4 linked regions of the Homo sapiens genome follow. The protein of the gene in region 4 interacts with the protein of the main gene of each other region in a pairwise test. Each region holds a gene or a part of one and is shown on either strand. Other genes may lie near its edges. The genes, in order: FAM3C, NSG1, FUNDC2 and EVI2B.

Region 1 (8,137 bases), on a different chromosome or scaffold from region 4:
ATCTAAAAGCAAACAGAGTGGGGGAGCACTCTTTCATGAATGTTTTACCTAATTGTGAACATTCTCCTAGTGATTATCACTGTAAAGTTCGTCTACACTAAGAAATATTGCACTCATGAAATCACTGCATTGAATGACAGTCACTTACGTGGTGACTACCTGAAATAATCGACTTCCATGGGCAGCTCACAGACCACTATATAAAGACAATGACACTGTAAAATGGAAGGTACCAGTGACAAATTTGCTGGTTATCAGTTCAGTTTGTTCAATTGCTCAAATTAGAATTATTAAACTAAAATTGTGAGTTCTTTTAACTCAAAACTTCAAGGTAATAGTAATACTCCCAGTGGTGTGCTGTTAACTATTTAACAACTGCTCTGTGTTTAGGAGAGAGAGGCAATATGCACATATGTGACTACACGTGCACACACTTGTCCTTATATAGACAGAATTATATATACACATAGGTACACAATTTATTATAAACTACTAAAAGATGTATAGCACACAATTTCATAAATAAAATCTACGATGTACTTTATTATAAATCTCAGTCGATTCTCACAGAGTATTTTAGTTGATTTTTCAAACAATTCACATCTGCAGCTGAACTATGGTTGCAATTGATGAATGAGCTCAGTTCTAACAAACGTTGGATCTATGTTAATAAGATAAAATAAAGAAAAACAAATAATGGAGATTCATGTTCAAATTCCACTTGCCTGTCAATGATGACTGAATCAGATAATAAGTTTTAAATATTGGAAGACTACTTCCTACATTTTTGGTGCTATCCACCATATAATAGATATAGATAGGACATATTTTTCAATTTAATCTGTGTAATATTTTCTCCCTCACCTCAAGTCTAGAACTTGAGTCTGCAAACTTTTTGTGTAAAGAGAGAAAGCACTAAAGAAGCTATAGGGAGATACATTCAAAAACACTATAAATAAATCAAAAGAAACACTTTTTTAAAATGTTTATGTAACTCATAGGAAGGCAGGAAAATGAGAAAATGAAAACAAATAATAAAATAGACTTAAACCCTCATATATTAATAATTATAATAAATGAAAATAGTTTCAACATACCAAATAAAGACAGAAATTGGCAAAGTGAATTAAAACAGGAACCAACTACACACTGTCTACAAGAAACTCACTTTAAATATAATTATATAGGCAGTGGAAAGTAAAAGGGTAGAAAGAGACATATCATGCAAACATTAATCAAAAGAGAAATTACAATTCAATTATAAAGAAACAACCCAATTTATCAATGGGCAAAGGGTTTCAACAGACATTTCTCCACAGAAGATATACAAATGGCCAATAAGCACACAAAAACATGCTAGACACCACTAATCATCAGGGAAATGCAAATGAGATTTCACTTCACATCTACTAGGCTGGCTATAATCAGTAAGTCAGATAATAACAAGTGTTGGCAAGGATGTGGAGAAATTGGAACCTTCATACACTGCTGGCGGAAATGCAAACAGATGCAGCCACTTTGGAAAACTATCTGGCAGTTCCTCAAATAATTAAACAGAGTTACCACCTAAAACAAAATCCACTCCCTGGGAGTATAAAGAAATCAAAACATATGTCCACATAAAATGTGTACATAAATGTTTCTGTAAATGTTACTCATTATAGTTAAAAAGTGGAAACAACTCAAATGTCTACCAACTAATGAATGAGTAAACAAAATGTGGTATATCCATACAATGGAATATCGTTCAGACATAAAAGGAATGAAGTTCTGATACATGATATAACATGGAGGAAGCCTGAAAACATTATGGTAAGAAGCCAATCACAAAAGACCAAATATTATATACCACTTATATGAACTGTCCAAAATAGGCAAATCTATAAAGACAGAAAGGAAACTAATGGTTAACTTAGGGTTTGGGGGTGGGGAAGTGGGGCAGGACAAGAAAGGCATAGAAGGATATTAGCTAAGGGGTACAGGGTTTCTTTTTGAGGTATAAAAATTTTCTAAAATTGACTGTGGCAGAGATTGCATATATCTGTGAATATAATAAACCACTGACTGTATAATATAAATGAGCAAAATGGACGGCATGTGAATTATATCTCAAAGCTGTTTAAAAGTACTAGCTTGGAGCATATACATTTAAAAGGTTCTATGCTTTACTACTTAACCATTGGCTCAGCTGCATCAAAGAGAAGGAAGTTTCAAAATGTACTGTTCTGTTTCTTTCAGAAATACATTCAATAAGTAAACTCCATCATTAAGAAGTAACTGCTGTGATTAACGGGTTAAGTGCCAGAGTGACTTTTCCAAGTAAAGATCATCAAGGAGTATGATGTGGCATTTTACAGACTGAAATCTATCATAAAGCAAAGAAATAAAGGTAACAAAGAAGCACAATGACATAGGCTTCCCACAAGAGGGCAGCAGCTTATCAATTTTTAAAAACTGAAATTCAAACAGAAAATCTCTAACAAATAAAAAATCCACTGAGATTTAAAATGTATAAAGGTTAGTAACCCTTACTAACACAAGTTGAAATATTTTCTTTTATCCTTCATGAATATAAGGTACCCCTTCCCACATCTCTAGGCAAAATTCTAAAGGAAATGATTATATCATCTGTAGAAATACTCAATATATCCAAATATAGATTTGTTTCAAATAGCTACTTCATGTCCTAGTTATTAGTTATTATCTCTTAAGATGGTTAGTTTAAAGCAGGGCTTGGCAAACTATAGCTCACGAGCCAAATCCTGCCAACTGGTTTTTTGATTTGTTTTACTACTCATGAGCTTAGAATAGTTTTTACATTTTTAAATGGTTACATTTTAAATGATTATGTAAGTACATACATAATAACCTTGATTTTACCTCTTTGCCCTCATAGCCAAAAACATTGATCCCTTGTTAAAAAAAAATCCCTCAAAATAATCTCATATTCTTGCAGCAAACATTACCATTAAAATCAAAAGTAATGAATTATTCCTAATATCAAATTCATACAAATTGAAATCAAATGAATATATGCCTTAGATGAAAATTATAATTGGAACATAAGTTAGTTCTATGGGTGCTCTAACGAGAAAGAAAAAACCTGTAATCCCAGCACTTTGGGAGGCTGAGGTGGGAAGACTGCTTGAACCCAAGACTTCAAGACCACCTTGGGCAACACAATGGGACCCCATTTCCACAAAAATAGAAAAATTAGCTGCATGTGGTGGTATGCGCCTGTAGTCCCAGCTACTCAGGAGGTGGAGGTGGGAAGATCGCTTGAGTCCAGGCATTCAAAGTTGCAGTGACCTAAAATTGCGTCACTGTACTCCAGCCTGGGCAACAGAATGAGACCCTGTCTCTAGGTAAAAAAGAAAAGAAAAAAGAAAAAGTAAAGGAAAAAAAAAAGCTGCAATTACTGTTTTTCCTGAGACCTGAGGTTCATACCTGCGATTTTCTAACTAATGAGACATTTAAAACACATCTTTATCAGCATAATGTATTTTGACTTCAACTACTTATGACCACCATCCTAATTGTAATTATCACCTGTCTGTATCAGAGTTTCTCAAACCCAGCCTCTCATTTTAAGAGCCTGATAATTCTTGTGGATGAGCTGACCTATGCACTGAAAGATGTTTAACAGCATCTCTGGCCTCTACAAGGAGTACCTCCAAAGCTATGACAACCCAAAATTACAATGTTCCCTGGAAAGCAAAACTGCCCCCATTGAGACACACTGATCCAAGATTAGTAGTCTCCAAAGTGAGTTACATGTACTCAGAGCAGGTGCTGTGAAAAGACTAAATTCTCTGCTTGTGTTATTTTTATTATCTACTTATAGATTTTAGTGAATGTATAAGCAATAAAGTCTGTTACCAACAGGGAGGCAGTATGAAAGTGCTGTGGCAGTAACTGGCAATGGCCTTCCAATTGTCCTCTCTATTCCACTTCCTTAATTATTTTACACAGCAACCAGATAACTTTTTTCAATATAAATAAAATCACGACATGCCAGAATTTGAAATCCTTCCACAAGTTCTCAATACACTCAGAAAAAAGTCTCAACCCTTTACCTGCGTGGCCTACAAGTTCCTATGCAGCCTGGCCCTAATTCACTTCTCTCCAGAGCTATCCAATCTTAGGGCCTTCGAGCAGGCTTCTTCCTCCTGCTCGAAGACCAAGGATGGTCTTCCTTTCTATCCCTCAGATCTCAGAATACACATCACTGTCTTAGAAACTGTTCCATAACCCTCAATCTAAAAGTTAGACACCTCTTTCCATCCACTCTCGCCAGTACTCATCACACCCTGCTGCCCTGCAGGGCTGGTATCACAATTTGTTTGTTCATTTTTTGTTGTTGTTGTTGTTTTTTTTTTTTTTTTTTTTTGAGACAAAGTCTCGCTCTGCCGCCCACCCAGGCTGCAGTGCAGTGGTGCGATCTTGGCCCACTGCAACCTCCATCTCCTGGGTTCAAGAGATTCTCGTGCCTCAGCCTCCCAAGTAGCTAGGATTACAGGCCCATGTGCCACCACGCCCGGCTAACTTTTGTATTTTAGTAAAGACGGGGTTTCACCATGTTGGCCAGGCTGGTCTCAGACTCCTGACCTCAGGTGATCCACCCGCTTCGACCTCCCAAAGTGCTGGGATTACAGGCATGAGCCACCACGCCCAGCCTGGTGTCACAATTTATAAGTACGTATTTTTTTTAAGCATCTGTCACCCCTACTAAACTGTAAGTTCCATGACAGGAGGGATTATGCTCAAAAATACTTGCTGAACAGGTGAATAAATGACTCTCAGAAAACTTAAGACTCTTTCTTTGGACTTTAACCTGAGGCTTGGGTATAAAATCCCACCAAGTATTTAATCTCTCATGGTAATGGCAGAATGGTTCCTGAAATAAGGATGGATAGGTGGCCTGCCTCATTTAATGGTTAAAGAAACTGAAACACAAATGCTACATGACACGCCCACCATGCTAGAAGCAAATTCTCTGGCTCTAAGCCCAGTATGTATTTTACCAAGCTCCACTGTCTATGCACTGTTCGCTTTCTGACCTTAGATCTTTAGCTGTTCAACATTAGGCTGAGGGATAGAGAACAGCTTCTAAGACAGTGATGTGTACTCTGAGAACCAAAGGTCAAGAAGGAAGACAGCCAAGTGAAGAGTGAGGAAAGACCATCCTAGACAGAAGAGTATACTCTAAGGCCCCAAGATCAGGAAGATCTGGAGAGAAGTGAATAAGGGTCAGGATGTGGGTAAACAGTTGAGCTTTTTTTCTGAGTGTGTTTTGTTGTTTACGGTTTTAATCTGTGAATAAAAAACCTGCTAGTAAACAGTCTGATCTCTTCTTCTCTGAACTAAAATTCACATGCATCAAGGGGGCAGAATAGATGTCCAAAATCATCCATGGGTTAGGTATTCTAAAAGAACTTTGTTCCTGTGATTTAGAATCAAATTTGGGGTCTATTTAACCAAACAAGATAAAGAGTGGAAATGAGAATGTTTTCAAAAACCTACAAACTTCTAAAATGCAAGTGCCTTATTATGCATCAGTAAAACAGGACTATTCTAATGAGAAATCAGAAGACAAATGGATTAACAATAAATCATCATTAGAATACGGGAAAATAAAGGAAATCAGTACAGACCTTAATGATCATCTAGCTCAAGCCCTTAATTTTACAAGAAAAGTGTTGTCCCATGAAGCTCAATAAACTTCTTACAGCTAACTGCCTGCAAAAGAGGCTAGGATAAAAATTTAAGAGCTTCAATATTAAAAAGAAGAGGCACATAAACAGCTAGGAAAAGCTGCCTAGGTCTCCTCTTTGCTATAAAATTATCTCTTTATTCTATATAATTCGTGACAAATTTATTATTTTATATTAAATTTAAATAAGCCCCCATGTCTAGTTTTCTAGGCAATAGCATATTAAAAGCAACCAACTAAAAGTAGGATTTGCAATTTCAGCAGCAGGAACTTGCGAGCAACAGTTGACACTGAGGTAGGATATCAAAAATCCTAAAAACCATCCTTTAGAAAGCATCTCAACATAGGAAACCATTCAGCTTAGAGGCAAGCAGTTTGTGCTGCAATGGAACTGAGGTTATCACTGGATCATTTCACACTTCAACAAGTAGCACTCAAATATTTTAAATGAAAGACGTTGGATTTCATTTAAAATAAAGAGAACACATTCATTGTCCAGGGCAATGTTGCAAATAGGATTTCTGCCACGATGAAAATGCTCTCTCTGCTGTTCCATTTGGTGACCATGAACCACATGTGGCCACTGAACACCTGAACTGCGGTGACAGATACCAAGGAACTGAACTTTTTAGTTAATTTAAGTGAATTAACTTTCTTCCTAATATTTAAGGATCAAAATTAAATAGCCACATGTGTTCTGTTGCTAGCAAATGGGACAGTGCAGATCTAGAGAATTTACTCAGAGGAAATCTCTTATCTCTATAAAGCCGAATAAGTGTTACGTTCTTAGTCACTCTCTAATATAAAATTTAAGAACTTTAAGGTCCCTTGAATTCATGAGAAAAAAACTACATAACAAAAATGGAAATCACTTTCCATTAATAAAGTATACCGAACACATTTTCAAAATATCCATTAAACTCAGGTTCAATTGGCTGCAATTTAATAGCACACCTTATCGTCTCAAGTCAACAAAGACTTACACATTATCTTCCAGGCAGATTTTGGGTCCCACCACGTTGGCTGCTCCACTTGCCATTTTAAAAGCAAAATGCTTCTCAGGGCAAGCTTTTGAGATCCCACACTTATATCTGGGAGGCTTTGTAGCTTTGGGGGAGAAAACATGATGTCTTTTTTTAGAAAACAAGTTAACAGACTTTACCTCACTTTACTTCAAATCTCAAACCACAAAGAGCATTAAGAAAAACATCAAGATACACGTATCTTAAAATACAAGCTAATTTGTTCCCCTGAGGGTTTCAAAGAACCTCAAAAAATTTTTTTAAAAAAAAACAGCAACAAAGAAACCCACAACAGACACCAGATCTTCCTAGGAAACAAACTAATAATGGATGCAAATGAGTCAAGTAATATGATCTGCATTAGGGCAAATATATTTTATCTAACTATGAGTTTATTTTTAAATTTTAGGATGTGGGGGGTTCTGAATGTTACTTTGCACTTCTAGTCCATATATGCACAAAAAATCGTCACCTCCAGGATAATTAAAAAAGGCCTAATGTTCCATTGACTACCTTGCCCATGTACACTCTTAACTCCTTCTCACACCAATTTCTGTACTTATAATAACGGAGCTAAAAAACACAAAATATCCATCATGAATAATTGCCAAAAATATTTGGGCTGTCCAATCAAATAGCATCCTCATAACTTTAAAAAGCAATTTCTAAAGCAGTTTTTCCTCATACTGAACTACTGACACTTTGAATATAAGCTCTCATATGCCTAAGGCAGAATAAATCATACATAAAATATTGAGATGAAATACTTACAACGTGCAGCTGTGTCCAATGCTGATCTTGCTGAAAAAAAAAAATTACTTTTGTTAGAAGGAATGAGTCTATTGGCAAGTATCCACTTTTAAAATATATTTAGGTCCACAAAAATAAGTGTTCAAATAATGATTCAGTATACAATAAAACATGAATATCACTTAAGAAAAAGTGAGAAAGTAACTTCACACTGTACATTCATTATAAACTATTAAATAATTATGGAGGATAGTATTTTACTACTGATAAAACATTTTATTTTTCCCTTACCATTTTGTTTTGAATTTTAGTTACTATATATTTAAATTTCAATCAGGAAGTTACTCTACAAACTTACCTTTCAATGTTTATAAATATAAATTTGGTGAATATGATGGTGTTTAAAAGTTGTTGCTGCTGTATGGTGTTGTACAGATACGCAAAGAAAGCCCCAGAGAATATACATGAATCTATCTTAGTGGTGAGGTTAGGAGATTGCGAGGGCCAGGGAGGGGGATGAGGAAGATCATTACTAAAAGATTTACAATTTATCAGTTCAAGGAATCCATGAGGTCAAATCTTAATTTGAATGTAGTAGTTCTCAACCTGACCATCTATCATAATTATAGTAGGGCTTTTTAAAAGCACTAAC
Region 2 (8,137 bases), on a different chromosome or scaffold from region 4:
GCTAATTTTTGTATTTTTAGTAGAGACGGTGTTTCACCATGTTGGCCAGACTGGTCTTGAACTCCTGACCTCAGGTGATCCACCCACCTAGGCCTCCCAAAGTGCTGGGATTACAGGCGTGAGCCACTGCACCTGGCCTGGCATTGTTATCCTAAGAGATGACAGCCCTGTGCCTGTCACTGCTCCTGAAGACCTTCCAGTGGGACAGGGTGTGGAGGCAGAAGGCGGTGATACTGTGGATCCTGACCCTGTGCAGGCCTAGCTAATGTGTGTGTCTGTGTCCTTAGCTTTAACAAAAATGTGTTGGAAGTAAAAAAAGAATTAAAAAATTTTTTAATAGAAAAAGCACATGTAGAAAAATAATATACAGTTGTGCAAGATGTTTGAGCTTTAAGCTAAGTGTTATTACAAAAGAGTCAAAAACTTACATTTTAAAAGTTTATTGGCTGAGTGTGGTGGCTCACGCCTGTAATCTCAGCACTTTGGGAGGCCGAGGTGGGTGGATCACCTGAGGTCAGGAGTTCGAGACCGGCCTAGCCAACATGGTGAAACCCTGTCTCTACTAAAAATACAAAAATTAGCCGGGTGGTGGCGCACACCTATAATCCCAGCTACTCAGGAGACTGAGGCAGAAGAATCGCTTGAACCCGGGAGGCAGATGTTGCAGTGAGTCAAGAACGCACCATTGCGCTCCAGCCTGGGCAACAGAGTGAGACTCCATCACACACACACAAAAAGTTTATGAAGTAAAAAGGTTACAGTGAGCTCAGGTTAATTTATTACTGAAGAAAGAGTATGTTATGAATGGAGTGTAGCCCACATGTCCAGCGCTCACTCGTCTACAGGAGTGCACAGCCATGCCTCGGCCTTCGCATTCACTCACCACCCACTCCCTCACTCACCCACCCAGACCAGCTTCCGGTCCTGCAAGCTGCATTCATGATGGAAATGCCCTATTCAGGTGGACCATGCGTTATAACGTGTTTTTACTGGACCTCTTCTATGTTTAGATACACAAATACTTACCATCGTGTGACAACTGCCTACATTGTTCAGTATAGCAACATGCTGTCCAGGTTTGTGGCCTAGGAGCAGTCGGCCATACCCTCCAGCCCGGGTGTGTAGCAGGCTGGGCCGCGTGGGTGTACAGGACACTCTGTGAGGCTGGCACAATGATGGAGTCGCCTAACAACGCGTTTCTCAGGACGTATTCCCGTCACTAAGTGATGCGTGGCCAGGCCTCCCCTGGCTCCGTCTTCTCTTTCCACCCTTATCTCCCCTCCCTTTAATCCCGTTGCCTTGCATGTCACTTGTGGGCTTTTGGGAATGAGCATTATATATGCAAAGCGAGCATTTCCATGCCTGTAGAGAGCCCAGCACCAGTGTGGCTCCTGCGGTGGGACAGGCAGGAGAGGGACACAGGTCAGGAGGGTGGGTGTGCCCCCCAGCCCTGCTCCCCTTTCCCTGCGTGGCCTTGGGCAAGGCCTTCCTCTCTGTGGGACTTGGCTTCCCCCAGTACATCCTCTCCTCTTTCATGTGGCGGACATGGTCCCGTCTCTCTCCCTCCCTCCCCCAGAGCAATCCGCTGGGATCCGGTAGGTATCATCCTGGGCATTTCCCACGGCAGACCCTGGCTGGGCCCACTTTCGAGGAGGGCCCTTCCCCGGACTGCTGAGGTCAGCTCCCAGGGGCCAAGTCCGGGAGTTTCCTTCCTGTGGGTCTCATGTGCCCCCTGCCTACCTGCCCTGCTCTCCAGGTGGGCCTTCCACAGGGACACTCCTGACACTGGCCCCCTGCTGCTCTAAGGCCTGTCCGTGGGCCAGCTGGGGGAGACGGCAGGAGCAGCCTTGAGTTCAAGGGAGAGAACATGGGGTGCAAAGGCGTCCCAGGGCCTCTGGGGGAAAACGGAGTTTTACCTTGAGGACGAACCCATCGGGGCAGGCGCGGTCATACTTGTACACCTTGTAGACAACCAGGAAGACGACGCAGGTGAGGAAGGCCAGGGCGAAGAGGACCAACACGGAGACCTGTGGGCAGAGGTGGGACTGTCAGGGGTGGCCGGAAGGCAGCAGGACAGACACACACACACCCGCACACGAAGGCCCCCCCCCACACAGCATGTGCAGAGACTATCTCTGGAAGAACCTGGTAAGGGCAGCTAGGCACAAGAGGTTAGAAGCATCACTGTTCACTGGGCAATTTTTTGGTAACATTTTAATTTTTCACCATATTCATAAGTGACATTCATTTTAAATTAGTTATTTTTAGTACCCAAGGTCCTGCATAGAGAGCTCAGGGTACAGATATGAAGAAGCCCCACTGTTGCCCAGGCAGCTCTCGGGCCACTAAGACACATGTGTGAGAAGTGGGGTTGGGCTGCCCACTGCCCCATCACGGCGGTGGTGCATCAGCTACCAGCCAAGCATCCGCTCAGCAAATGTGTCCTGAGCCCTGGGCTCAGTGCTGGGACGCAGTGTCGCATGGACACCAGCCTGCTTTTGCGTGGGACCAGGAAAGACAGAACCTCTGCAGCCCCATTGGCCTTCGCCCTCGGCGGTTTCCCATGTGGTTAATTAAGTGTCCTCAGGGACAGGGATTCGGTTTTCTTCACCATGGTATGCTGAGCACTAGACAGCCCCAGCACACAGTAGGTGTTCAGCTGGTGTTTACAGATGAACTCACGACAGCTGCAAGACAGCTGGCTTGGAGGGGGACAGCCTGCCCCGGCTGGAGGGCACGGGGCATGGGTCACTAGATGACACTGGACCTGGACCTTGAAGGCACTCACCCGGCTGCCAGGGAGCCTGGCAGGGACGAGAGTATGTCTCAAAGCCAAAACGGGCTGGGCGTGGTGACTCACACCTGTAATCCCAGCACTTTGGGATGCCGAGGTGGGTGGATCACCTGAGGTCAGGAATTCGACACCAGCTTGGCCAACAGGGCGAAACCCCATCTCTACTAAAAATAAAAATTAGCCGGGCATGTTGGTGCGCACCTGTAATCCCAGCTACTCAGGAAAGCTGAGGCAGGAGAATCGCTTGAACCCAGGAGGCAGAGGCTGCAGTGAGCTGAGATAGTGCCACTGAACTCCAGCCTGGGTGACAGAGCGAGACTCTACCTCAAAATAAATCAATCAATAAAAAGCTAAAACAGCGTGCAGATGGCCCTCCGCCTGCCCAGAGAGGCAGAGAGAGCGATGGGGCTCCCTGGCCGGGTGGGAGGATGCCAGGTGCCAGCACGTGGCAGGGCCTCCGTAATCGTATGAACATGCACAGAGCTGCTCGCTCCCCACCGCCCCTCCCAGCAGCCTGGAGGATGCGAGGGGCTGGGACTCTCCCCTGGCCACATACAGACCCTACAGCCAACAAGGTTAAAGAACTGGGGAGCTCTGCTGCTTCCTAAGGCTGCAGTCCCGAAGCTCAACTGGGTAGACCCTCCAGCAGAGTGCCCTCCTGAGCCCTGCCCGCTTCAGGAACTCTAGGCTTGGAGTCCCCTAACACCATGCAGTCCCCAGTTCCCATCTGTGATAGGAGACCAAGGGCGTCCCAGGCACTGGTCCTGGGGAAGCAGGAGATGTACGTGAGAAAGTGTCCTATCAGCCGTGCAGCATGGTCACCTGGGAGACGGGCGGCCACCCTGCCGTGAATGCTGAGGCTAACCCTCCTTCTCTTTGGGGGCCCCTATGCACCCCCTGCAAGCCGCTCAGGCCCCAGCACCAGGGCCCAGGGTGCAGATTCTGCCTGCAGCTCTGCACCTTCGCAGCTTACCAGCCTCACCACCTTGGAAGCCCCTTAACCTCTCTGAGCCACAGACTCCTTCCCTATGACATGGGACGACACCTCCACCACGTCCCCGTCTCTGCAAGGCTGCAGATGCCTGGAGAGCCACACTAGTCACTGCAGCTCATCCCCTGCCTCCACTTCCCGGAGGTCTTCATCTCCAGGCCTCACAATTGTCCCCGAGCCTGCATCCTGACTGCAGGGAGCCCTGGCCACAGGACCAGCTGAATGGGGTGGCTCAGAGCTGAGGGACGTGGCCTCTCTGCAGTCAGATTCCTGTCCATTGTGCTGCCAGATTCATTGGTCCCAGGGGCTCTCAGCACAGTGCCCGGGGCAGGACAAGGGCAGCACCAAGACCCTGAGACCCCAGCCCAGGCTGCTCTCGCACTCCGCCTGGCTACCTGCTACATCCCACCGCCCGCCCTCCCATCTCCCCAGCTCAGACCCACTACAACTCCAATGAGACCTGTCCCCTCTGTGTCCCTTCACCTAGGGAGGGACCCCTCAGGCCCCTGGCAGGCAGATTCACATCCCCTCTGAGCAGGCCCATCCTCCTGGTCCCCAGGTCCTGCCAGTTCCTCAGTCACGTCTCCCGCCTCCACTCCCCCAACCCCGACCGTAGGTTGCCTTCTCAGGGCCATCACCCTCTCTAAGGGCCAGAGAAACTCCAGTCCACTGGGATGGCCTACAGTGCATATGGAGCCTGTGCCTGACAAGGGACACAGACAGGATGGAGCCAGGCTGCTCCCCAGGGCCGCAGTGCCCACAGGGAAAGGCGCCGTTTAGTCCAGATCACAGCTGCAGTGCACAGGCCAGCGCACAGCACCTGGGCCAGGGCAGCAGAGCGCAGAGCTGTGATGAAGCAGGCAGAGCTGGCCGGAGAAAGAAGGCGCAGCCGTCTGAGGCACGTGGCAGCCAGAGGCAGTGGCAGGAGCCCAGCCAGGGAGGGCTGCCTGGCGATGATAGCCGCAAGCCCTGATGGTGCCTGGGGTTGGGACAGGCTCTGGACAGGGGCCGGAGCACAGACCCTGCGGCTCTAGCTCACTGGCCGGGAGTCTGGCACCTGGCTCCAGCCTGTGAATAGCAGTGAAAGGAACGCCTTCCAGGGACAGTCACGGGACACTGAGAACAGCACCTGGGTTGGGGGGGAGCATGACGGAGCTGTCTGCTGTCGCTGCTGTTATCCTCACTCTCATCTCCTCACTGGCCCTGGGGTGTGCGCCTGGCAGACAGCAGAGCGGGCTCTCAACCCTCTAACCAGCTGCCCCGTCGCATGTTCACCCGGGGCCAGCCTGCCCGGGCTCCAGCTACCTGCCTTTCTCCAAGTCTACACTGCAGGGCTGCCTCACTCAGGGTGGTCCAGAAGGACTTGGTTCCATTTAACTGGCCTCCTTCGTAACCCTTTGCATTTTATTCTGTGCATCTGAAAACACTATTCTGAGAAGAGAGCCAAGCCACCACAGGTGCAGATGTCCTGTTAGAAGAGGGTTTCAGGGGCAGACGTGGTGGCTCACGCCTGTAATCCCAACACTTTGGGAGGCAGAGGCGGGTGGATCATGAGGTCAGGAGTTCAAGACCAGCCTGGCCAGCATGGTGAGACCCCGTCTCTACTAAAAATATAAAAAATTAGCCGGGCGTGGTGGTGAGTGCCTGTAATCCCAGCTACTCAGGAGGCTGAGGCAGGAGAATCGCTTGAACCCAGGAGGTGGAGGTTGCAGTGAGCCAAGATCGCGCCACTGCACTCCAGCCTGGGCAACAGAGTGAGACTCCGTCTCAAAAAAAGAAGAGGGTTTCAAGTCCTTGAAGAGATGGGGCATCATTAAACCTGTTTCTCCAGTTGGGAAGCCACATCAGTTTGGCTCCTGGTACCCCACCTGTCTAGATTTAAAAAGAACCCCCATTCTCTCCTGCAGGGCTGTGGGGGAACCACCTCCTCGGGGGTGTCCTCCGAAACCTGGCCAAGCCTTTCCTCCAGGATCCCAGGCCCAACGGCTGAGGAGCCAGCCGAACCGTGCAACGAGAATGCGAGAGTCCCTGGAACAGTCAAGGGGAGAAGGGCAAAGAAATACATCCAGGGAGAGTCAGCGGGCGGCCCGTGGTGTGGCAAAGAGCTCCCCTACAGGCTGAGCTCTCTCTTCCCCCTGCCCTGTGCAGACTCTGGAGCTGGGGTCTCCTCAGCCACTGCAGGGCACAGCATGGGGTCCATGGCCTAAGGAGAGAGAGGGCCACGGGCCTCTCCAGAAACTGGCTCGGAATTGAATCCTGTAAGCTGCTGCCTGTGTGATCTTGAACAGGTCACCTGGCCTCTCTGGGCCCCACATCTCATCGCCAAAGTGGGGGAACCATGCCTTACACCCTGACGCATCTCAGGAGAAGGACAAGAGACCACAAGTTGAGAGCACGCTGGGCCCCTCAAAAAGAGATGCTGAAGTCCAGCCCCCAGGATCTGTGAAGGGGACCTGATTTGAAAATAGGATCTTTGCAAATGAGCCCATCAGGGTGGGCCCTAATCCAACCAAACTGGTGTGTCCTTATAAAGAGGGGAAATTTGGATGTAGACAGACACGCATATAGGGAGAGGGCCGCGTGAGGACGGAAGATTACAGCACTGTGTCTACACAGCAAAGCCAAGGATGGTGGCAACCTCCAGGAACTAGGAGGGGCAAGGACAGAGTCTCCCCTGCAGGTTTCCAAGGGAGCACAGTTCTGCCGAAGCCTTGATTTCAGACTTCTGGCCTCCAGTAGTGGGGGAGTAAATTTCTGTTGCTCTGAGTCCCCCCAGTTTGTGGTACTTTGTTATAGGGCCCCTAACAGCAGAGTGACTTCACAGGGGTCAGGACTGGCTCCCCTCCCCCATACTTGTTCTCTCTGCCATTACCCCGTTCCTTCCGCACCATGCCAGGCTGCCCTGCCCTCTCTCCTTGCCCTTCAAAGCCCTGGCCAGGCCCCCTGCCCCAGGAAGGCTCTGGAACATCCCAGCCTCTATCGGGACACCAATCGTGAATGCAGGCACCAAGGAGCCCAGCATCTCTTTTTTCCTAATTAAAGTGAAATAAAAGTGTCACAGTTTGGAGACTTTCCTAAGTCCCTGCCCCCTCCCCATGAGATACTTAGAAGAATTCTGGAACATTGGATGATGTTACTGAGCCAGACATCGGCGTTTCCTCCAGGACCTTGCAGTATCTTTTAAGCTTCCTCTACAACAACATGCCATGATCGGAAGCATCTTGGAGAACCACGACCACCAGCAACTCCATCGTTCAACCAATTTGAAAATACTTGATGGACGAACTAGCCATTCATGCCAGGGACTAAAAGTGAGATAAGCCCGGGTTCCTGGCCTGCTCGGCCACACGCAGTGACCCTGCAAAGGGCATTCGCCCCAACGCCTGGTTTCCTGTGAAAGGGGGATGCCGGCCCAGCACCTGCGTCTATGATGGGGTGTGCAGGAGACCCCATGGCTGGCAAACAGTGGGCACGGTGAGCTGGGTGAGCCATTGTTACCCTATGGGAGCCCCACTCCCACACAATGTTGCAGGCTCCATGCTGGGCAGAAGCTGGAGACCGTCCAATTCAACGCCTTTCTTTACACATAACAAACGCCTTGTCATTGAAAAGGCAGCACCTCCAAGTCGGCCAACAGGACCCAGGTGATCCTAAGAGGCCGGTGTTGGCTATGCAAAAAGAGAGGTGGCGGCCATTCGCAGTGACTCCAGCCTGGGTACAAAATGGACTCAACTGTGGCTGCCAATGAGAATCATGGGAGGCTCTAATGTCCCCATCATCTGGACTCCACTCCAAGTAGCGATAGCGGCATAGCAAGTTTAAAACTCTCCAGATGCCTCCCGCATGTAGCCTAAGCTGGAAGCAAGGGGATAAACAAAGGATTCCACATCTGGGCAGAATTCCTGGGGGCTCTCGAGCTACACCCCCCACCAGACTTTATACTCTCACACCAAAACACTACCATTAGGAGGAGCTCTGGAGACGTCCGCCGCCTTCTGCACTCTGGTCAGCATTTAAAGTCTGCGTACTCCTAACACAACACCTGCAAGGCAGTATTACTGACTGTGTTTTACAAATGGGGAAACTGAGGCTCAGATGTACATGACTGGGCCCAGGCAAACTGGCTGTCGTTGGCTGAATAACGGCCCTAAAGACACCCAGGTCCTACTCCCGGAAATGTATATGGTAAGGGACTTTGCTGATTCAATCAAGTCAAGGACCTTGAGAAGAGGAGATTATCCTGGATGATTAGGTGGGCTCTAAAGGTAATCACAGGTGTCCTCCTAGCAGGGGAGCAGAGGGAGGTGCCCCTGCTGAGGAGGCGGCGACTTGAAGACAGAGAAAAGAGCAGA
Region 3 (8,137 bases), on a different chromosome or scaffold from region 4:
CCATATGCCTGGCACTAGAAATAACTACTGGCAATTCTTTTAAATTATTTATACTCTTACAACCCTTTTACAAAGAGTTACATAAGATGAAAATCAAGGTGGGGGGTCAAGATGTAGGGTGAAGAGATGGACCTTACAGCCAATACAAATGTTTCCAGAGAATGACTCTGACAATGTGCCCATGAGTGTCAGTTTCCTGACAATGTGAACAGAGCAAAGCATTCAGGCAGTTATTACTGTTGCTTAACAGGAAGAAATCTAGCATCTGGCCCCACAGAGATTTCTCATGAGCAAGTTCATATAAACGGATATTAAGAGAACCACATCCAAAGACACCTACAGCATATACCTATTTCCCTTGATAAAAACAGCAGGCACAAACACTAAAACTCAGTGTAAATCTGATTCAAGCATGTAGATTTTGATGATGGATTAATATCATCCTAGGAATGAAGAGAATGACTGTAGCCAATCAATCAATGCCCTATCAATATCACTTCTCTCTACCAAATTTTTGGCAATCTCAAAATATCTGAAACTAAAAGTCTTCACCTTGCTAGAGTCTCCTCCTGCATTGTTGCTCTTCCTCTAGGCCCTATTTTAGCTAATGGCACCACCAGTCACCCAAACAGACTAGAGAAAATACTTGTGATGTGTATCATAAACAAAACATTGATACTCAAAAAAGTGAACTTCTTATAGAGATCAGTAAGAAAGTTCACTTTAAAAATGGGTAAGGGCAATTCAGAGGAAAGTGTCCACAAAAAGGAAAAAGTTCAACTTCACAAGTAATCAAGCCATAGTACCTTTATTTATGAGTCTATAACTGGAAATACACAAAAGTCTATCAACACATGAATGGATAAACAAATTGTATCATATTTACACAATAGAATATTACTTAGTACTAAAAAGAACAAATTACTTACAGCAACCACATAGTTGAGTATCAACATTTGTATCTAAAAGAAGGCTCTGGTTCATTTACTCCACCCTGTTTATCCCACAAAATCCTGCTATTAAACTGAGAGAATACATGGACTAGCTATTTGAAGGCTCTTACATAAAAACAGCGACGTGCAGATTGGAGAAGACCAGAATTCAAAGCACCACCAAACTGGTGGCGTGTTTCCTGCTTTTCCTGCAGTATCGCCTGGCCTAACCTCAAGGCAGGACTCAAGAAACATCTGACAAAATTCAACGCAAATTCATGATAAAACTCTCAGAGAAAGAGCAATAGAGGGGAACTTCCTCAACTTGATAAAGAACATCTACATAAAAAACCCTGCAGCTAACACTGTACAGAATGGTGAAAGAACGAATGCAGGGAACAAGGCAAAGCTGTCCGCCGTCTCCACTCCTATTAAATATCGTACCAGAAGTGAATTCAGAGTCAGCACAACAAGGCAAGAAAAAGAATTAGGAGGCATCCTGATTCACAAGGAAGAGGTCAAACTGTCTCCAATCATAGACATCTTTGTCTACATAGAAAATTTCATAGACTTCAACAAAAAACAAAAACTCCTAGACTAAAAAAGTGAGTTTAGCAGGGTCACAGGACACAAATTCACACAAAACCAACTGAATTTCTATATGCTAGCAATTTGAACTGGAAATGAAAAATGTTTAAATGATTTACAACAATGGGTGCAAAAAATAATTAAATATTAGGTACAAATCAAATAAAACATACAGGATCTGTATACTGAGAACTACAAAATGCTGAAGAAAGAACTCAAAGACAACCTAAATAAATGGAGAGACACATCATGTACATGGAATGGAATACTCAACACAGAAATGATGCCCAGTTCTCTCCAAATTATCCATAGATTTACTGCAATCCCAAATCACAAATCCCAGTAGGATTTCTTATAGATACATAAATAAGCCGGTTCTAAGATTTATATGGAAAGGCAAAGGAACTGGAATCACCAAAATGAATCTGAAAAAGAACAGAGTTGGGGAAATCACACTACCTGATTTAAGATTTACTATAATGCTACAGTAGTCAAGACAGTGTGTCATACTGAAGAAGAGATAGACACACAGACCAACAGAACAGAATAAAAAGTACAGAAACGGACGTGGACAACTACAACAAACTGATTTTTCACAAGGGGGCAAAAGTAGTAATGGTGGTGGTGAAGTCCCCTGGGTGGCCCAGGCCAGGATTGCGAGGTGACTTCCTGCTCTCCTTGGCATTACTGGGGGACTGCACTGCAGGGGCAAAGCAACACCAGAACTGGGAAAAGCAGCCTCTCCCGCTGCAAGGTCCCTCCAGCGCCCTCTACTGACAAAGCTCAACATCCTACTTCCATTGCAGCACAACAAGTAGAGGGAGCCGAATAAACTGAAAACTGGCAAGCGTTGCTGCTGGGCTCTGAAAGCTGCAAAAAGTGCTGGAAATGATCTACAGCTTGGTAAGAAAAAGCAACTACATTCATAAAGACGTGAAGGAAAAATTTCACTGTTCACAGATGGCATAAAAAGATTTTATAGACAAAACCCAAAAGAATCCCAGACAAGACTTTTTTAACAAGGTGGCTGGCTGAAAGAGCAACATAAAATATCAACTGTATTTCAACACACTAGCATGAATCAGAATGTGTAGTTTTAAAAATCGTATCATCCACAAGAGCAACTAAAGTTATAAGGTATCCAGGAATAAAACTGAATCACAGATGTACAAGATCTATACGGAAAAATAATAAAAAGTCTATTCAAAGGCATTAAAGAAGACCTAAATAATTGGAGAGAAAGCCCGTGTTCACAGATAGAATACTCAATATCATAAGAGATATCTACATGGTTCCAATGCAATTCCGATAAAAATTTCAACAGGATTTTTGAAAATAACTGACAAGTCTGATCTAAAATTTAGATGAATGAGCAGAAACACAAAAGTAGCTGCAACACTCCTGAAGAATAAGGTGGAGGAATTTGCATTACCAAATATTAAGCTTTAGTACTGTCATAAAGATCGAAAGTTGACCAGTGGAACAGAACACAGAAACCAGAGTCACAGCCACACATACATGGGTTCTGATATATGAAAGAGACAATGCTGCAAATGTTGGGAAAGGGAAGAATTATTCACTAAATTCTGCTCAATTATCAGTATGGAAAAAAGGAAACTGGATCCCTATGTCAAACTATAACTTGTGATATAACTGATCTCCCAACATTATGCTTGCCTCCTGCTCTCACTCCCCTGGTGACAGATAACATGAGTGCCTGCCACAGATTCTCCATGTCTCACCTCTGCAGCAAAGCAGTGTCCCTGTACCCCTTGAATATTGGAATTATCCAACCCCAAAATCTCATTTTGAGGTGCCTTTCTGGAGACATTTTCAATACCAATTATTTCTGTCAGGGCCCCAAAACGAAACAGAGGACACACTCAAATTAAGACATTTCAAAGCAATATTAAAATGTTTATGAAGTTTGGGGCAGCATATAAGGGAAACCACAGGGATAGAGATGTTACTGCACTTCCACCTGAAGGGTCAAGGGGAAGGAGAGAGAGGTGTGAGGAGGGGCCCCACCTTGCAGGGAGTCTGACCTGTCTAGCAACAGAGCCAGCACGTAACAAGCCCACAGGGAAGCAGCCAACAAAAGTGAGGCTTGGGCAACAAAGGAGATGCAACTTGCACCATGTTTCTGCAGAACTGTGCTTGGGAGTCCTGAGGTCATGGTAGTGTGAGGAAGCCTATACTGGCACAGGGACCACATGGAAGAGCACTGAGACTATGGACAGGGGGGAAATAAGGAGAGGAGGAGGGAAGACAAACAGAGACAGAGACACAAAGAGGCCCCACAAGTCCAGACCTACCCTAACCCTCTGATCATCTGGCCTGTAACCACATGAGACTCTGATCCACAAGCACCTACCTTAACCCTCCCCAAACTCCTGTAACCATGAGAGAGAATAAAGTGATCATTATTTGAAGCCATTAGGTTTGGGGGAATTTGTCATGCAGCAATACCACACTCAACCCAGCTACAGCCAGTTACCAGCTTCCCTCTTCGATACATTTGATTTTCACCTGACCTATCTGCAAAACTCACTCCAATCATGGTGCTAATGCAGAACTTACCTTGCAAAAGTGAGGGTTGCCAACTGTGGGAAGAGACAAACGGCTGTGAATTCAGAGACTCTGGCATGATTCAGCAAGTTATGGCTCCCACAGCACAGCAGAATCACCTCAGGAGTTTTAAGTTTTCCAATGAAATCAGACTGTGGGTCAGGAGTGGCACACGTTGGCTCTTTTAAAAACTCCTAGGTGATTCCAATGTGGAGCCAAATTTGAATACCAATGCCACAGAGCTAAGAAATGTATGCCTAATACAATCAAATGTCAGTTTTCTTTTGTTTTTGGAGAAACTGCTCCCTTTTTCAAGTCTTGCTTGTTAGTCTCTCCTAAGCAGTCTCAGAGAACTGGCAACCACTGGTTCTGAAACTATGGGTCAAGGAGACAGCAGACGACATCTGACTGTACTGTCACTTAGCTCCCATTTCTCATCACATGCTCAACATCCCCTCTGTGAAAGCTAGCTATAATATTAGCATATGACACTAAATCATCACAGCACACTTGTATTTTTGAAATCACATCCGCTTAATAATTCAGCTGGTCTTAAAAACTCTTTTAAGGGAGCTATGATAAGGAATTTGCACTTCTGTCGCCACATGAGGAAATAAAATGGGACTGGCAAATAACATTTACTAGTATAATGAATAAAATTTGACTCAAACGGTCACTAGCATTTAAAATAGTACATGAAAACAAGTGCTAAGGCTAGTCTAGTGTGACATAGCCAGGACTGTATTACAACTCCCCACACCACATTCCTTAATGGGCAGGTGGAATTTCCAAACATCTGAGAACATTTCACATACAGACCTGAAGGAGAAAAAATCCACCTCCCACAGCTGTTGCAGCCAACTTTCCAACCTTCTGGAATATGAAACCTGTGCACCTACAAAAACAAACCAACATCAGACAAATTGATGAGCTGTCAGTTACATACAAACATGCATTTCTGGCAATGTTCATATCTTACTTAGCTTAAGATGACCTAGCTCCTTCCTACCCCCTACATAAAGCCAGCCCCAAGAGGAGCATGACATAAGGAAATCAAATCTTGGCTCTATGAATCTTGTGGTCTTGAGTAAGTCCCTTAAAACTCTCAGGTTATATTTTTAAAAGATGACTCTGGCTACATTGTGGAGAAGAGATTAAAGGGGGAGGACGAAGGCAGAGACTCTAGTTAAGACGGTGAGGTAGCGATCCAGAAGAGAAGTGAATGCCAATGGGCCGAGGTAGAGATGGCAAGGAGGGAGCAGACCTGAGGAACTGTTTGTGAAGAAAAAAAAAAACACTCCTGAGTTTGAGGACAGGATGGTTGCAAGGGATAAGGCACAAGATTCTGTCCTGAATGTGGCATTTTTTACAATATAAAAACAAGGAAGAGGAATAGAGGAAAAGGTGGGGGAAGGGAGGGGAGGAGATAATGTCATTTTGAATATGTTGAATGCAAAATGTCCATATGATATCTGAGTGGCAACATCTTGTAGCCAGTTTAATATAATTATGTGTTTCTTTATTACTGTCTATCTTCCTGCCCCCACCCGATACTAAAATGTAAGCTTCATGAAGGCAGAGATTTTGTTGTTTCATTGCTGAACACCTATCAGCTGTAATCATTAACCATTGTTGAAAAAATCCTCCCTAGACTCCAATTCTCCAGCCCCCTTCCCTTTTCTGTGCTCTCCTTTACAGCAAAACTACTTTGAGGCCGTCTCTTTTGTCCTGTGTCCATATTCTCTCACACCTACACCATTCAGGCTTTTGTCCCATGACTTCAATGAAACCATTCCTATCAAGGTTACCACTGATCTTGACCTTACCAAATGCTAGTGTTCACTTCTCAGCTTTAATCTCATCTGACCTACAGCAGCTTTTGACACAGTTGATTACTCTCTCCTTTTTTTAAAAAAGGTATTTTATTGTGTATATTTGAGGTTTACAACATGATGTTATGGGATACATATAGACAAGTAAAGTGGTTACTATAATGAATCAGATTAATATATCTATCATCTCACATAGTTACTTTTTTGTGATAAGAGCAGCTAAAATCCACTTAATTCACAGAAATCCCTAAGGCAATACAATTGCATTAGCTGCAGTCCTCATGCTGTACATTGGATCTCTCGACTTGCTCCTCTTACATATTTGCTACTTTGTATCCTTTGACCCACATCTTCCCATTTCCTCCCATCCTATCCCTGGTAACCAGTTTTATTTCTTTATATTTATTATATTATACAACTGTATATATGACTTTTTCCCCACACATATGAGATCATGCAGTATTTTGTCTTTCTATGTCTGGCTTACTTCACTTAGCATAATGTCCTCCAAAATCTATGCTATGGCAAACAGCACAATCTCCTTTTTTAAGGCTAAATAGTATCCCATTGTAGACACATTTTCTCTATCCATTCATCCATTGATGGACACTTAGGATGTTTCCATATCTTGGCTACTATAAATTAATGCTGCACTGAACATGAGAGGGCAGATATCTTTATGAGGTGGTGATTTCATTTCCTTGGGGTATATACTCAGAAGAGGAATTGCTGGGTCGCATGGTAGTTCTAATTTTAATTTCTTTAGGAACCTCCATACTGTTTTCCATAATGGTTGTAACAATCTACATTCCCGCCAACAGTGTACTAGGGTTCCTTTTTCTCCACACCCTCATCAACAATTATCTCTTGTCTTTTTGATAACAGCCATTCTAACAAGTGCCAGTTGATATCTCATTGTGCTTTTAATTTGCATTTCCCTGATAATTGATGATGCTAAGCATCTTTTCATATACCTCTGGTGGCCATTTCTATGCCTTCTTTGGGGAAATGTCTGTTCACGTCTTTTCCCCATTTTTTAAATCAGGTTATTTGTTGTTCTGCTATTGTACTCTCTCCTTCTTGACATCTTTTTGCTCTGGAATACCATTCTCTCTTGGTTTTCCTCATATATCACTGGCCATTCCTTATCAGACAATTTTGCTGAGTCCTCCTCTTTCTGACTTCTGAATGTTAGGTTGTTCTGAGGCTCAGTCCTAGAACCTCTTTGCTCTGTGTATTCACTTTCTATCTGCTGGGTCTATACCATGATCTCTGATGTAGGTTACTGTTACAGCTCCTCATCTGGACTTCTTACCTCCACTTTCACCCCCTAGAATCTATTCTCAATATAGCAGCTCATACAGTCCTAAAACAGGGGTCGACAAACCGCAGCCTGGGAGCCAAATCCTGCCAGATGTCTCTTTGTAAATCAAGTTGCAACAGAGATTGTGTGATCCATAAAGCCTACAATATTTACCATATGGGCTCTTTACAGAAAAACTTTGCTGACCCCTGCTCTAAAATGTAAGATCAAGGTACACTTCTGCTCATAACCTTCCAGTAGCTTCCCTCCTCACTAAGAGAGAAAGTTAAAGCCTTACACTTAACATCTTGTCTCCCATTACCTCACTACCCTCATTGTCTACTGTTCTCCCCTTATTACATTTCAGCTCAGTAAGAGAAAGAATTACAAATACAACAATGCATGGAGAACCTCATAAGACTTTTAATCTTTTTTAAACAAAAGTTAGATGTCAGGCAGTATATTTCTGAAGCGACTCTGAAATTGGAAGGGTGGTAGGACCAGTAAATAAATGATAAGGGTCCATTTTAAGAGCATTCCACTGTTCAGACTTACTAAAGTATAATCAGAGTAACTGACATATTTAGAATGGTTACAGATTTTTGCTGTTACAAAAATTGTTGCACTGTTTACAACACCTGGCTTTTTCTCTTTTTAAAACAAAACACACATTTTAAATAAAGCCTAATAACAAAGCAAGACCCAAAAAGATCAAGTGATTTCTAAGTAACTGCATCCAAGAACAAGAATCAAGCACATTTATAAGAATAAAAAATATCTAGCACCCAATGAAGTAAAATTCATAATATCTGCCATCTAATTAAAAACTACCAGGCTTGCAAGGCAGAAAAATACCACGATCAAAAAAAAATAAACTAAAAGAAACCCAGAAATGATACTGATGAAAAAATTAG
Region 4 (8,478 bases):
CTAGTGATGCAATCTACTGGAGTGCTCACAGCTACAAGGGAAAGAAAAGATGAAGAAGGAACTGAAAAACTTACTAACAAACAGATAGGTTAGTGAAGAAAAATGCAAAGTAGCAATGAGAAGGCTTATGGAGTAAAAATGAAGTCAGTTGGTATTTAATCCCAAAGTGTTGTTCTGATTATCTAAAATTTGACATGGTAGACCTTGCAATTTAGAATCAAGCAGGTGAGACAGGGAGAAGTATGCCTGCTTAATTATTTAAACTGTGTACTTTTGTTTTGACACTGAATATTTTAAAAAGCAAATAATAAAATAACTAAGCATTTGAGGAAAATTTTAAGGATAAATTGAGGAAACTGATTAATAGAGATAGCAAGGGATAATTAAATAAATATTCCCTATGTAGCAACAGTGGTTAGATGATCTTTGTCTGAATGTAATTAAACTTTGAATAGTTTTAGTGTGTCCTTAAAGCCAAGTATATGCTTTAACATCAAATGGAAGTCAAATTCCTAATGCATAGATAGAGAGAGCTAAACTGTGTAATTTAATGGTATCTTCCTTGCTGGATGTGGCAGAATCCACACCAGCTTATCAACCAACACAGCTAATTTTAGAATAGATCCTTTATCTTTCCATATGGCACACGTAAGAAAGTGTTTTTCTACTATTAATATTAAATTAAAACCTTTACTTTTGTATAATAAATTAAAACTCAGAATAAACCTGTGACCACGTATATTTGCATTCACTTTATTACTTTAGAGAACACATTGTAAAGATCAATAAGAAATAGAGCACAACTAAAATAAATAAGATTTATAGCCACACCAATAGGCTAAGTGTAAACGCAAAGTATGTTTCACTGTTTATGATTAATAATATTCATCTTTTCTATAAATACTACTTACTGGAACATTAACAACAAGTACCAAAGGTTGATTAATTTTTGGACTTCAAGGATGCCAAGTAGCCTAATGATTTATTAGGGGTGTGTGTGTGTGTGTGTGTGTGTGTGTGTGTGTGTTCAAATCTGGAAAACTGCATACTTCAGGTTATAATTTAACCTTTAAAGAAACTGGCTTCAAGTAAAATAATGACTTACATTTAAGTTGAGAACCCCCCCATCTTCAATTAAATATATTACAAAAATTGGTTTGAGAGACTTTCCAAATATCTACTGAAATTAACACAGGGCTAAGATCAGGCCACATTTCAAAAATCTCATCCCTTACTGGGCATTTATTTCGGGCAATATAGTAACCATTTTAAAAATATTTTTTATATGTTTTTTCCCAAGTATGACTACAATCTTACTCTCCCTTCTAAGCTAGTGATTCTTACCCTGGCTGCATGTCAGAATCACCTGAAGAGTTTTTAAAAAACACCAATGCCTAATTCCCATGTCTTCCTTCTGATGCAACTGGAATGGGGTGAACTCTAAGCATTGGTAATTTTTACGTAACTCTCAAGGTGATAACTGCTCTTGGTCATCAAATTCAAACGTCTAGCTATTATTAAAATGAGAGGAAAAAAATAAAGCATCATTTTTATTATCAATTTATTAGCAATTTGTAAAAAACAAATCTATTCTCTAAACGAGAAATCATAACAATATTATTCCAGATAAAGTTAAGTGTTAACAAAGTAAAAAGGAAAGCATGAGAATATTCATGCCAGTCATGGTGACTGAAATCAGGTTATCTTTTGAGGGGAAAAATAACCCAGATTAGAAATGAAACTGGGCAGACTTCCCATTCTGTGCAAAAATTGAAAATTTGAGATTGTGCACCAGTACATCCAGGAGTAACACAAAGCACTCCTTGAATCAAGGGTCATAAATAAACACGTGTCAGAGAAAATTAAAAGAAATTAATATCATCATAAAAATAGGAAATTACTTTCATATTCAACATACTGGTCAAACATTTTCTCACCAGAGAGCTTCTACCACAAGGATATTTAAAAGAATATTTAAAATTCACCACTCACTATCTTGGCTATTAAACATATACTCTCAGAATGGTACTATCCAATGATAGTTACTGAACAAACAGAAGTGTTTCCTTTCCAAATGACAGGTATTTTAAAATGGTAGGTAAGATATCTTTGAGTTCAAAATTTAAAAGTCATTTAGTTTTGAACAAAAACACATTCCCTACCCCTGGGTATTACAGTTCACCAGCTTAATTCAGGGATTTAAAAATAGTGAATCAGGTTAGGCACAGTGGCTTACACCTATAATCCTGGGAGGATCACCTGAGGCCAGGAGTTTGAGGCCAGCCTGCACAACAAAGTAAGAGCCTCATCTTTACAATAAATAAATAAGCCAGCCAGCGAGCATAGTAGCATGTGCCTGTAGTCCTAGCTACTCGAGAGGCTGAGGCAGGAGGATTGCTTGAGGTCAGGAGTTCAAGACCAGCCTGCGCAACACAGCAATACCCTGTCCGTAAAAACAACAATACTTCCAAAAACCAGTGAATCAAAAGCTTTATAGCATTTGATTATATTATGCTTTATAGTAGGAGCCCATAAAAAAAAACTATTCTTTTTGCACCAAGCTATAAGTACCCTGAAGTTAAGAACAAGGTCATAATAACCTGTGTTTCCCGCAGTGACCAGGAAAAAGCAGTGCATGGGTTAACACATTCCGTACCTACTATAATATGCATCATCCAAGGCACTTTACATTTATTTAATTCCACAATAAGCTTATAAATTAGGAATTATGATCTCCATTTTTCAAGAGAGGAAAGGTGACTTACTCAAAGAAATTTTTATTCAGATGGACTCACTCCTTTCAATACACTTTGTTTAGTTAACTTAAAAATTTTTTGTATTTTAAATTTTTGTGGGTACATAGTAGGTGTATATATTTAAAGGGTAATGAGATGTTTTGATACAGTCACGCAACGTGAAATAATCACATCATGGAGAATGGGGTATCCATCCCTTCAAGCACTTATCCTTTGTGTTACAAAGGATCCAATTACACTTTTAGTTATTTTAAAATGTATAATTATGGTATTAATGACAGTCACTCTGTTGTGCTATCAAATAGGTCTTATTCATTCTTTCTATTGTTTTTTGTACCTATTAACTGGTAACACCATCTCCCCAACCCCTCATTACCCTTTAGTAACAAGTTAACTTTAGTTAACTTCTTATTTAAAAAATGATCCCCAATTTATTTTATTTTCCACTGAGAAGTAACTACTTTGTGGGTAATCAAATAAATAGTTGAGAACTTGAACTCAAAAGTCACTAGTAAAATATTTGGTCAAAATAATTTAATTACAAATATACAAATGGCAAACAGGCATACGAAAGGGTACTCAGCACCACTGATGAGAGAAATGCAAATCAAAACTACAATGATACCTCATCTCACCCCAGTTAAAATGGCTTATACTCAAAAGACAGGCAATAACAAGTGCTGGGAAGGGTGTGGAGAAAATGGAACTCTCGTACGCTGTTAGTGGGAATGTAAATCAGTAAAACCACTATGGAGAACAGTTTGGTGGTTCCTCAAAAAACTAAAAATAGAGCTATCATATGATCCAGCAATCCCACTGCTAGGTATATACCCAACAGAAAGGAAAACTGTACAAAGAGACATCTGCACTCCCACTTTTGTTGTAACACTATTCACAACAGCCAAGATTTGGAAGCAACCTAAGTGTCTATAAACAGATGAATGGATAAAGAAAATATGGTACATATACACAATGGAGTATTATTCAGCCATAAAAAAGAATGAGATCCTGTCATTTGCAAAATAATGTAATTATACTTTTACCCTGGACTTTTTATATTATGAGGAAATAACATTACATTTATTGGTTACCTGCAGTTGGTGAGGCATTTATACATGTTATATTATGCTATCTTATTTAATCCTCACAATAACCCAATAAAATATTCCTTTAGAGGAGGAAACGGTGACTCAGAAGTGCAGAGTCTTGCCTAAGGTCATACAAGTAAACAGAACACATCACTCACTTCTTATGAGAAGAAATCTCACTGTAAGTGATAACCCAACTGGCAGCTTTTCTTCTTAGAACATGTAATTTTCTCTTCGGGACTCCATCCTAAATATTTAATTTACATAATCATATTACTAGAGTATCTCAAATATTTATTTACATAATTAAAAGCACTCAAATCATAGGGCTCCAAAATGTATTTCAAAATAAGTTCTGTTAAAGTAATATATTTCTTAGTCACTTTGTGGTTTATTGCACTTCCGGAACCAGCTATTGATAAACTTCCTCTTTTTCTACAGAAACTATTTCAGTTTGCTAGAGGAACATTTTAAATCTGAATTGAACCACCCATTTTCCTTTCTTAGCCAAATCACCAAAATGTCCAGTTAGAACAAGAATTTAGCATTCTGCAAAAGAAGTTAACAGCTGAGGTAAGAAAATTTTCACACAATTTGGTTTGATCTTGCTTTATATAAAATTTATTTTAAAAACTGTCATTAGTGTTTTAAACTTAAACTCTGATAGTCTAAAGATGTCTATAACAGGTTTTTGTGGTTTTGTTGCATAGAATTAAAAAATACTCAGTTCAGCTTGCCTTAGAAAAATATTTTCACCTAGGTTTGTATAAGACCTTTTAAGTTTATTTAATCTCACACACACACACACACACACACACACACACACACATATTTTTTTTTTTTTTTGAGATAGAGTCTTGCTCTGTCTCCCAGGCTGGAGTGCAGTGGCACGATCTCAGCTCACTGCAACCTCCACCTCCTGGGTTCAAGCAATTCTCCTGCTTCAGCCTCTCAAGTAGCTCGGATTACAGGCGCCCACCACCACGCCTGGCTAATTTTTTTGTATTTTTAGTAGAGATGGGGTTTCACTATGTTGCCCAGGCTGGTCTCCTACTCCTGACCTTGGGTGATCCGCTTACCTCCGCCTCCCAAAGTGCTGGGATTACAGGAGTGAGCCACCGCTCCCAGCCACAATCATATTTGTTAACCTTAGTTTTAGAATTAAAAAGAAACTATAGCCATGGCAGATAAAGCTAAGGGTTAGAAATAGAACTAGATTCCACAGGCTATGACTGAATTTATAACCTCCAAAATATTAATTGTTAAAAGTTCTAATGTACTTTTTATAGAATTTTCCTGTACATAATATAATGCATAAATTAAAATTTTTGTATCCCCTTTAGTTTGCATAGTAAGAATGGTCACTTTCACTTAATTTAGAAAGAAAAAGAAATCAGATGTGGTATTTGACTATTATTATTATACATGCTTTATTTTTTACATATAGATTTTATATTTAATAATGATGACATGAAAACATTATGGCTCATTTTAAAAGCTTACTAAGCCAAAAATGTTAGTCAATAATCAAACATGCATGCGTATATTAATATCATCTACGTGTTTATGTCACATTATCTGAGACTTTAGAACATAGTATAAGATAGAAGAAACCTATAGAATAAACAATAGAAAATTGTTAATATGCATAAAAGATGCTTGCTGTGGGTAAAATGGGCAAATAAAAACTGCAAAGAGTATTTTACATAGACTTGTAATTTCAGGGAATAATATGTTCATAGTGGGTGATATCCCATTTCAACACTTAATAAATATTCATGACTTTCTCTTAGAAGGATTTCTTCTAAGTAATTACTGTGGAAGTCAGAAAATAAAGATATTTATCTCTTTTTCAGATTAGGCTTGTCTATATATTTTTCTACTTCTAATATTTAGTTTATTTCATTATGCATAAAGTCATAAAATTATATTAAATTTTTTTCACTGTCATATTTCATAAAATTAAAAAATTTCCCATCGATCCTTATGGTGTGTTTTTGTCATAGAATCCCATACTTTTTTTTTTTTTTTTTGAGATGGAGTCTCCCTCTGTCACCCAGGCTGGTGTGCAGCGGCACCATCTTGGCTCACAGGCTCACTGCAACCTCCGCCTCCCAGGGTCAAGAGATTCTTCTGCCTCAGCCTCCTGAGTAGCTGGGATTACAGGCACCCACCACCACGCCTGGCTAATTTTTTGTATTTTTAGTAGAAACGGGGTTTCACCATGTTGGTCAGGCTGGTCTTCAACTCCTGACCTCAAGTGATTGGCCCACCTCGGCCTCCCAAAGTGCTGGGATTACAGGCAGGAACCACTGCGCCTGGTCCCATACATGTTTTTAAAGGGTTAGTCCCAAATCTAAAGTTTACTAGTAGTGCCTGTGTTTTCCAGCTAATTCCCACATAATTCTACTTAGAAGGAAACTTTAATTCTGATTAAGTTTGAATTGAGAAACATAAATCTGATGCCTTTCAATGTCCAAGCTTTAAAAAAAAAATCACCACAAAATTTTCAGTAAACTTACTAAATATGACACTTTATAGAAACCATTCCAAATTCTTATAATAGTTTTCGTAGAATCAGGACTAAAATGGGTTTTCAGGTATTTCTTTCCTACCCTTTATCTAAGACTACCTACAAGTGTTATTTACGTGTAATTCCCACCAACTCACATCTCCTTCCTTCATAAAGCATTTCTATTTCATAACTTTTCTATGAAAGGCAGTATAGCACATACAGTGAAATGTGATAGAAAGAAACGGTTCTGGCACAAGATTAGCATGATTTTTGTATTAGTGCCACTACTTAGAGCTGTGATACTGCCAAGTTACCCAACATCGTGGTGTCTCAGTTTCCTTATCTGTAGGATGAAAAAACCACCACCTAGCTAATTAAAATAGGATACTGCTTAGCCTTTGGTGGGTGCTCAGTAAATGGTCACTATCATGATACAAGATGGTCATCAAATACTTCCTATTGTAGTTGAAGGTCAATTTCTCTTTCCACTTTTCCTCAAGATGCAGAATGGCTGGTTTTTTCTTTTACGGTTTCAAAACTTCACTAGTTAGAGATAATACTACTGCTAAATTTTAATCTATTATATTTGCATCACAACTTTTATTATATCAAAGTAATTGATACAGCTATCTATACTTGTCTTTTGTCTAGGATATGCTCTCCAAATCTTGATTCTCTTTAAAAGATAATGGCATACTTCCTAACATATCCAACTTAACAGCATCAATTTTAAATGCTGGACCCTTTAAGTACTTATGCATTATATTTATAAGAACATGTCTATGGCCGGGCTCGGTGGCTCATGCCTATAATTCCAGCACTTTGGGAGGCCAAGGTGGGTGGGTCACTTGAGTCCAGGAGTTCAAGGCAAGTCTGGGTGACATGGTGAAACCCCATGTCTACAAAAAATACAAAAATTAGTTGGGCGTGGTGTAGTGCACCTGCAGTTTCTAACTTCTTTAGGGAAGCTGAGGTGTGAGGAGGATCGCTTGAGCCCAGGAGGCAGAGGCTGCAGTGAGCTGAGATTGCACCACTGCACTGCAACCCGGGTGACAGAGTGAGACCCTGTCTCCAAACGGAAAAAAAAAAAAAAAAAGAACATGTCTTATACACGGGGACTCCTGCTTCACTGTAACTGTCTTTAAAATGTTTAAATTTATGTTTTTCTTTTTAAAATATTCTAAATATTCAGCAAAGAAAAAGAACCAAAATCACAGATTTAAACCTCAAAGTGCCAGCCTATAATAATGAGTAAAAACCGGCATATGAGGGCTGACAAATTTGCTTGAGCAGCAGACTAAGGGATTTCTGGAAAACTCTATATAAAACGTACACGGGTACATGGGTTCTTTGGAATAATTGCTAGGTATGCTTCTGGATAGTGTCAGGGAAAAAAAAAGGGAGAGGATGGTAAGGATACTCACAGCAGACAGGAGAGCCTGAAATGAAAGGTAAATGAATTTGAAAGGATGGTTCCTTCTGGTCCTCCATTTTAGAAAGCAAGCTCCTCTTTACTGTCTCCCTGCACTCACAAACACAGGCCAGCCACAACAGAGCAGCATTTTGCCGTTGCTTCTTTCATCTACTTCAATCATCTCCCCCCACCCCCAACTTCATTTTGCCTACTTCAATCATCTACACTGCCTTCTTGCTAATTATATAACCACTGCTTTTTTTTTCACCTGTTTATTAACTTTTCTTCTTTTCTGTATCTTCTCTAGTCAATTGACCTTCCTCTTTTCTGTTCGCTGCTTCCTAGAGTTTTTGTTTTTTCTCTTTTGTGTTATTTTGTATTTCTTTGCATTGCCTTTTATATTATTCTAAATCTCCTTTTTATTCCCCTGCCCAATATTGTTCTTTACCTACAGAAACAATGTTGGTACTTCAGGTACACACCACTTACATATTTTAAAATGTGTATGCTAAATAACCTTCCACACTGGTAGTAACGCTGGCCTCATTACCGCTGGGAAAAAAGTCAGTTTTTTCCACTACCATATTCCCTATTTATTCCTCTTTTAAATCTTTCTTCTCCTTCTCTGGACTACACTGAATTGCCATCATAGAATTCTAATACAGTTTCTAGTACTCTGATGTGGCAGATCCTAGGAGGATAAAA

What was found.
Region 1: the proteins of EVI2B (region 4) and FAM3C interact in binary tests that used the Homo sapiens proteins (3 or more experiments, as listed by UniProt).
Region 2: the proteins of EVI2B (region 4) and NSG1 interact in binary tests that used the Homo sapiens proteins (3 or more experiments, as listed by UniProt).
Region 3: the proteins of EVI2B (region 4) and FUNDC2 interact in binary tests that used the Homo sapiens proteins (3 or more experiments, as listed by UniProt).

What each region holds. Positions count from the first base shown.
Region 1 is NC_000007.14:121,364,604-121,372,740, forward strand, and holds part of FAM3C (protein FAM3C precursor), read right to left. Parts: intron 7,537-8,137; coding exon 7,507-7,536; intron 6,821-7,506; coding exon 6,697-6,820; intron 1-6,696. UniProt on the Homo sapiens protein: May be involved in retinal laminar formation. Promotes epithelial to mesenchymal transition.
Region 2 is NC_000004.12:4,403,463-4,411,599, reverse strand, and holds part of NSG1 (neuronal vesicle trafficking-associated protein 1), read right to left. Parts: intron 2,028-8,137; coding exon 1,917-2,027; intron 1-1,916.
Region 3 is NC_000023.11:155,043,355-155,051,491, reverse strand, and holds part of FUNDC2 (FUN14 domain-containing protein 2), read right to left. Parts: intron 4,984-8,137; coding exon 4,908-4,983; intron 1-4,907. UniProt on the Homo sapiens protein: Binds directly and specifically 1,2-Diacyl-sn-glycero-3-phospho-(1'-myo-inositol-3',4',5'-bisphosphate) (PIP3) leading to the recruitment of PIP3 to mitochondria and may play a role in the regulation of the platelet activation via AKT/GSK3B/cGMP signaling pathways.
Region 4 is NC_000017.11:31,309,918-31,318,395, reverse strand, and holds the start of EVI2B (protein EVI2B precursor), read left to right. Parts: upstream 1-4,341; 5' UTR 4,342-4,417; intron 4,418-8,478. Other genes in the region: protein EVI2A, read left to right, coding at 1-93. UniProt on the Homo sapiens protein: Required for granulocyte differentiation and functionality of hematopoietic progenitor cells through the control of cell cycle progression and survival of hematopoietic progenitor cells.